2 linked regions of the Homo sapiens genome follow. The protein of the gene in region 2 interacts with the protein of the main gene of each other region in a pairwise test. Each region holds a gene or a part of one and is shown on either strand. Other genes may lie near its edges. The genes, in order: DGAT2L6 and PBX3.

Region 1 (3,833 bases), on a different chromosome or scaffold from region 2:
ATAGCAGGAAAAAGGCTGAGTGGACAGTGCTTTAAAAAGTCATGTTATGGAGTAGAAGAAACCTTTGTAATAGGCTGAATTGCCCTCATAAGCACTGGTCGAGATAGTTGTTGTAAGCATTCAAATTAGACAGGAAAGCGTGGTGGGAGGAGTTTTATGGGAAGCCTGCCATGGAGAAAAAGCCTTGCTATCTATGCCCTTCATCAAAGAGGAGAGTAAATTTGCCAGTTAAGCTTCAGAAGGAAATTCAGATAAAGTTAAATAAGAATAATCACTAATTAAAGTTAGCCTAAGTGTATCATTTCTTTTATATTTTGTTTCAAATAAATTTTGTTTGTTTCCCCAGTATTTAGAAGAGAGCTTGGCACACAGTAGGTGTTCAACAAATATCTGTAGACCAATTGAAAACGAAATAAGCAAATGTTTTCTCTTTTCAGTAGTAAACTTGATAATTACTATTTAGTCAGCATGTATAGTGTTATTTAAATGTGATGTTATTTTAAAAGCATAGACGGATTAGTTGTGTGCCTTTTATCTGATTCATTCATCCACCAGTCCTAAAGGCGGTCTAAGAGCCCTTACCTGGGTAACACCATCCCCCTTGTGGAACCTATTGGAACTGCAGATATGACCCGGCAGGAGACGAGGAACGTTTTTTTCAGAGCAAGGCTTCCAGACCCAGCCCGAGTGTCATCAGTGTCGTGCACGGTAACAAAAGTGGAATTTAAAGATATAGGAGAAATAGAAGCCAAATGTGGAAGAGCTAAGTCTCATGTAAAAAGAGTTCCGTGACATAAAGCAAGGGTATCTGAAGAAGGAATGATGAAGAACAAGCATTTATGTATGTGTGACACTCCCTTAGGTATTATGGCCTTGACACCAGAAGATGGTTCCAATTTCTCTTGTCACGTTCAAGTGAGGCGTCTTGGAGAGGGTTATCAAAGAGGAAGTTCACATAGGTAGGCTCCTAATTTAGTTTGTAGTGAAGATGGCCAAGCCATTCTAATATATGTGCACTGGGGGAAAAGAAAAGAAAAAAAAAGAAGAAAAAAAAACTAATATATGCGCATTGGTAGCTCATCATAATTTTAACTTGCATTTCTCCAATAGCTAGTGATGCGTAACAGCTTTTCATGTGCTTGTCTGCTTTCTGTATATCCTCTTTGGTGAAGTGTCCATTCAAATCTTTTGCCCATTTTTCAATTGGGTTGTTTTCTTACTGTTGACTTTCGGTAGTTCTTTATGCATTTTGGATATAAGTTTTTTTGTCTGATATGTGATTTGCAAACATTTTCTCCTAATCTGTGTCTATCTTTTCATTCTTGTTAACAGGGTCCTTTTTACAGCAAAAGCTTTTAATATTGATGAAGCCCAACTTATTAATTTTTTTTCTTTTATAGATTGTGCTTTTGGTGTCAAACTGAAAGAACTCTTTGTCTAACCTCATGTCATGAAGATTTTTCCCCTATATTTTCTTTTCTTTTCTTTCTTTCTTTTTTCTTTTTTTTTCTTTTTTCTTTCTTTTTTTTTTTTTTTTGAGACAGGATCTGGTTCTGTCACCCAGACTGGCGTTCCATGGCGTGATCTCGGCTCAACTCACTGCAACCTCCGCTTCCTGGGCTCAAGCGATCCCCCCACTTCAGCCTCCAGAGTGGCTGGGACTACAGGAGCATGCCACCACACCCAGCCAATTTATTTTGTATTTTTTTGTAGAGACAGGGTCTTGCTATGTTGCCCTGGCTAGTTTCAAACTCCAGGTCTCAAGTGGTCCTCCTGCCTTAGCCTCCCAAAGTGCTGGGATTACAGGTGTGAGCCACTGCCCCTGACCTCCCCTGTGTTTTCTACTAAACATTTTACAGTTTTCTTTTTTTACATTTAGATCTACAATACACTTCAAGTTCATTTTTACCAGTTTTATGGAGGTATAATTTACAAATAAAAATGGTGTATATTCAATGTGCACAATGTGATGATTTGAGACAGGTATACATTGTGTGATGATTACAACAATCAAATTAATCAATACATTCACCACCATACATAGTTACCCTTTGTGTGTGTTTGTGGCTAGAGGTGAGGATACTTAAGATCCACTCAGCAAATTTCAAGCATATAATACAGTATTATTAATGCTGCTATACTTTAGATTCCCAGAAATTATTCTTTTTGTAACTGAAATTTTGTGCCCTTTGACAAATTTTTCCTTATTTTCCCTCTGCCCCAGCTCCTGGCAGCCACCATTCTATTCTCTGCTTCTATGAATTTAATTTACATTTATTTACAAATATATATATTTAGAGACAGGTTCTCTCTGTGCTGCCCAAGCTGGTCTCAAATTCCTGAGCTGAAGTGATGCTCCCACCTCAGCCTCCTGAGTAGCTAGGATTACAAACATGTGACACCACATCCAGCTCTAATGAGATCATATGGTATTTTTCTTTCTGTGTCTAGCTTATTTCACTTAGCATAGTATCCTCCTGGTTCATCCATGTTATTGCAAATGGCAGGATCTCCTTTTTATGGCTGAATAATATTCGTGTGTGTGTGTGTGTGTGTGTGACACTTTCTTTATTCATTCATCTGCCAGTGGACACTTAGGTCGATCCCACGTCTTGGCTATTACTAATAATACTGCAGTGAACATGGGGGTGCAGATATTTCTTCAAGACACTAATTTCATTACTGTTGGAAACTCCCCACTATTTTCCATACTGGTTGTAACAATTTACATACCTACCAACAGTGTACAAAGATTCCCTTTTATCTATATCCTCACCAAAACTTACCATTTGTCTTTTTGATAATAGCTATCCTAACAGGTGTAAGGTGATATCTCACTGTGGTTTTGATTTGCAGCTCCCTGATGACTAATAATGTTGAGCCCCTTTTCATATACCCTTTGGCTATTTGTATGTTTTCTTTGGAAAAATGTCTATTCAAGTCCTTTGCCTATTAAAAAGTTTATGTTATTTTATTTTTTTCTATTGAGTGGTATGAGTTCTTTATATATTTTAGAGATTAACCCCTTATAAGAGATATGGTTTGCAAATATTTTCTTCCATTCTGTGGGTTGCCTTTTCATTTTGTTGATTGTTTCCTTGGCTAGGCAGAAGATTTTTAGTTTGAGGTACTCCTGCTTGTTTATTTTTGCTTTTGTTGCCTGTGCTTTTGTTGTCATATCCAAAAAATCATTGTCAAGGCCAATGTCAAGGAGCTTTTTCCCTATATTTTCTTTTAGGAGTTTAGTGATTTCAGGTCTTACATTTAAGTCTTTAATCCATTTTGAGTTAATGTTTGTGTATGTCATAAGGTAAGAGTCTAGTTTCATTATTTTGCATGAGGATGTCTAGTTCAACACCATTTATTGAAGAAACTATCCTTTTCCCATTGTGTATTCTTGGGACCCATTTCAAAGATTAGTTGACTATAAATGCATGGGATTATTTCTGGGCTATCTATCTTATTTCATTGGTTTCTGTGTCTGTTTTTATGTCAGTACCATAGTGTTTTGATTACTATGGCTTTGTAATATAGTTTGAAATCAGGAAGTGTGATGCCTCTAGCTTTGTTTTTCTTTCTCAAGATTACTTTGGCTATTCAGGGTCTTTTGTTGTCTCATACAAATTTTAGGATTTTTTTATGTTTCTTTTAAAAATGTCATTGGAATTTTCATAGGGATTGTATTGGATCTATAGCTCACTTTGAGTAGTATAGACATGTTAATAATGTTAATTTTTCCAGTCCATGAACACAGGATATCTTTCAACTTATTTGTGGCTTCTTCGATTTTTTTCAATGTCTTACAGTTTTTGGTATACAGATCTCTCACCTCC
Region 2 (3,833 bases):
AAAACAATAAAAAAAAACCCTGGTGATTTGATGCTGGTATAAGCTGGGGCTAAAGTTACATAAAATCTCATGGAAAATTTTGTAGGATATTTCTAAAACAGTGAGACTCAGGACCTTGTCATTGACTGACACCAGCTTCACACAACTTCCACCAGAGTGTATGGAGAAAGTAAGGAGGCAGGTGTAAAGACACATGGCAAGAGGTAGTAAGGAATCACCTTAATTCCTCAGCCAAAAAACTCAGGCCATTTGGCCTCTAATATTATATCTCTTTCCATGCAAGGTGACTGGTAGTGTTTATCTAGTAAGTAGTTATAGTTATTTTAGCATAAAGTTATACAATTAGGATTATACTACAAATAAGAGTCATTTTCTACTGTTTATGCTCAGGGGCAACCTTTTCAACCATGACTTATTTTGTTTACTCTCAATTATTCATATGTCAAATCAGAAAGTGGGATTTTTACATACATACACACGATAATTTTTCCAAAATTCTTATTTGTACATTTTCCACAAGAAGTTATTCTTACAAATGAGACTAGACATACAATTTTAGATCTCAGAAAATCCTATTCCAAAAATAGAAAACACCTTATAATATTAATTTACACTACTTTTTAACTTAAAGCTATACAAATTTTTCTACTCTTCCTCAAAACACACTCACCTCTGGGATAGGATTCAGCATTTGCTTAATACCATTGTATCCAGAATATTAGAAAAGGCAATGTGAAAAAACAACGATATATATAATTGAAACTATACAGGGAATGTAGAGGGGAAAAAATCAGTATTAAAACTGATCAGGGGTTGCCAGGGATCAGTGGGAAGGAAAGAATAAAAGAAGAGAGGGATGAATAGCACAGAGGATCTTTAGGGCAGTGAAAATACTCTGCATGACCCTATAATGATGGGTACATGCCATCATAAATTTATCCAAATCCATAGAGTGCACAATACCAAGAGTGAACCCTAATGTAAACTATGGATTTTGGGTGATAATGATGTGTCAATGTAGGTTAATCAATTTTAACAAATGAACCCCTCTGGTGGGGGATGCTGATAATGGGAGAGACTATGCATGTGTGGGGACAGGAGGTATATGTGATATCTCTCTTCTTTCCTCTCAAATTGGTCTGTGAACTTAAAACTCCTCTTTAAAAGAGTCTTTAAAATACACACAAACACACACAAAACTCACCAGGACTCCCATTTCACACTAAAGTGTGTGGACTTTAAAAAGTACTTGCCTACATAGTGAAATACTCATGGGTGAAATTATAGGATGTCTAAGACTTGCTTTAAAATACTCTTACCAAATTGGGGCTGGGTACACAAAATAAGAGTGGCAAAATGTTGATAACTGTTTATCTGGGTAAAAAGTATCTAGCTGATTCTGATTCCTTATTTGGGGTTGAACTCTATGAAATTACCATATTCAACTGTTTTTGGCCTCAAAACTTAGCAATTTCATAGGGTTCAATCTAATACTATTCTCATTATTTTTGTGTACATGTATTATAAAATGTTTCATAATACGTTTTTAAAATTACCTTCCAAATGACAAATCTTATCAAATGAGAATTCCTCAAACTTGGCAGCTTTTCAGCATTAAACTAACAACTAAAATATATGTAAAAAGACCCACCAATATTTTACTTTATTACATTAAATCTAAGACTCTCTTGTTTTTCTCCACATTTTAACATCTCTGAAATGTGAAAGCATTTTATAATCAGTAATATTTTATAGTTAAACTAGCAGTATTAATTTTTTCTTGGTGTTACATAAAGATGCAACTTAAAGTTATCTGAGATTCAGTATGGTTAATATAATTGCTGAGAACCAGATTTTTAACCCATATTCTCTTTCTAATAAGGAATTTAGCACATAATGCCTTGCCTAGCATTCCCTGTCCTGGGGTACCCATAATTATCTTGGGAGGTCTCATACTCAGAGAAACAGGCCGGAACCTGCTTACTTGGTGAAGTTCCCTATAGTCTGGCACAATCCATAAGAATTAATTCCCAGGAGGATTCTGGAGCTCACAGCATAGGAGGGAAAAGCTCACTGTGCAATGCTTCCCTTCAAAAGTGATTAAAGCTTATGAACAAGGCTAGTGCATAAATGTTAATTATACAGAGCTTTGAAGAGCACCAAGTGGTGAGGTGAGAGGGAAGAATGACTGCAGGTGTGGTAATAAGGGCACGTGAATGTGCGGAATGAATAAAACTAAAACAAGTAGATGGGATAAAATAGGTAGCGCTCCTCCTCCAAAATCTCAAAGGGTCTTCCTTTCATGAATCCAACAATTCACTTGGATTTTTGCACTGACCTTATTTATTTTGTAATTTGTGTTAACACCTACCCCTCACAGCCCTCAGAATTGGTTAGCATGGTCTAATAGAAGAGCAACAGAGGGTTTGTGTAGGACTATGAGAGTGGCGGCTGCTGACCTGTTCATATTTCTCCAGTTCTGTGTGATAGATTTGTCTGATCTGGGTCAATTTGGCTCTGTAATCTGAGTGTTCAATAGAGTTATCTGAAGAACCTCCAGAGGCTGCCGCGGCTGCAGCTGCTGCCGCCGATCCCCCACCTTTCTCAGGACCTGAAACCCCTTCTGCCAAAAGCATATTGTCCAGTCTCATTAGCTGGGGATCGGGAGGGTCCTCCTCCTGGGCTCCTCTGATGCTGAGACCTTCAAGGAAAGAGAGAGAGAGACAGAGAGAGAAGAAGCGAGAAACAGAGGACAAATAGTGTGAGTATTTTGTTTATTCGAGAAAATGATCAAACAACATCAGTGTACTACAATTCATGCTGAGAACTTCATTGTTCACATTTGATCGGTAAGTTTGAATAAGTATGAAAATTATTTTTAAGATAGTGTTTACATGCACCCTAGAATTTTAAATACCCCCCCACCGCCTCAATTTACCACAGACTAGATCCTTAGAAAAAGGTAACCCTGGCTTCCTGGAATATTTTAATCATTCAAGCTTCCCAGATTTAGATAATTTAAGCATAAAATGGGAAGAGGGTAAAAAATTGAATGTTTTAAGAAAGAAAGAAAATAATTACAGGGATATAAAACAACTCATCCAAAGGTGGTTATTCTGTCTCTCTCTGTACAGTTGGAGAAACAGAATTAAAATTCCCATAAAATAGTTAATTCACAAGCTGTAATCAAAAATTGAAAAATAAACAACATTAGATGAGCTTTTCCATCGTGTGATTTCAGAAGAGGAATACACACATTATGAGGTAACTGGCTATACTTAAATATATATATATTATTAAATGAATATTGTTAAGCAATTGCCAGCAAACTATAAAACGAGGATACTAAATACAGTATTAAAAATGTGCCATTGACATGGCAATACAGTGCTGGGCACAGTAGTCTCAATCTAATTTTGCTTTTAAATCAAGAACTTCCTAAGTGATGCCCAGTCAGCAACCTCTTCTGAGTACTATAGATCATAGCTGACAATTCATAGGTTTAATCAGGTCACACAGGCTTTCTGCCAAAATGTTTTCAACAACACAGAAGACAAAGTTTTAAAATAATTATCATGGTATAAAAAGCATTGGAGTCATGACAGCTCAAAATCAGCATTTTCATTAATGTGTAACATAATCTAAAACATCCCAGCCCAATTAACCTCTGTAAATCTGCTTCAAAGCAGGTTCCCTACACTAGTTACAAGGCTTCTTGGGGAAGAGGGGAAAAGGAAGTTGGCACCTTGCTTGTTTGTATTTGGATTCTCTTTTGAGTCTGTGCCTGTTGTTGTTTATCCACAGTGGTACACACTTTGTGTCTAGTGTAACTT

Evidence for each region.
Region 1: the proteins of PBX3 (region 2) and DGAT2L6 interact in a two-hybrid assay, tested with the Homo sapiens proteins (one large-scale study listed by BioGRID).

The regions. Positions count from the first base shown.
Region 1 is NC_000023.11:70,194,191-70,198,023, reverse strand, and holds part of DGAT2L6 (diacylglycerol O-acyltransferase 2-like protein 6), read right to left. Parts: intron 1-3,833. UniProt on the Homo sapiens protein: Diglyceride acyltransferase that uses fatty acyl-CoA as substrate. Particularly active with oleate as a substrate. Has no wax synthase activity to produce wax esters.
Region 2 is NC_000009.12:125,914,554-125,918,386, reverse strand, and holds part of PBX3 (pre-B-cell leukemia transcription factor 3), read right to left. Parts: intron 2,702-3,833; coding exon 2,460-2,701; intron 1-2,459. UniProt on the Homo sapiens protein: Transcriptional activator that binds the sequence 5'-ATCAATCAA-3'.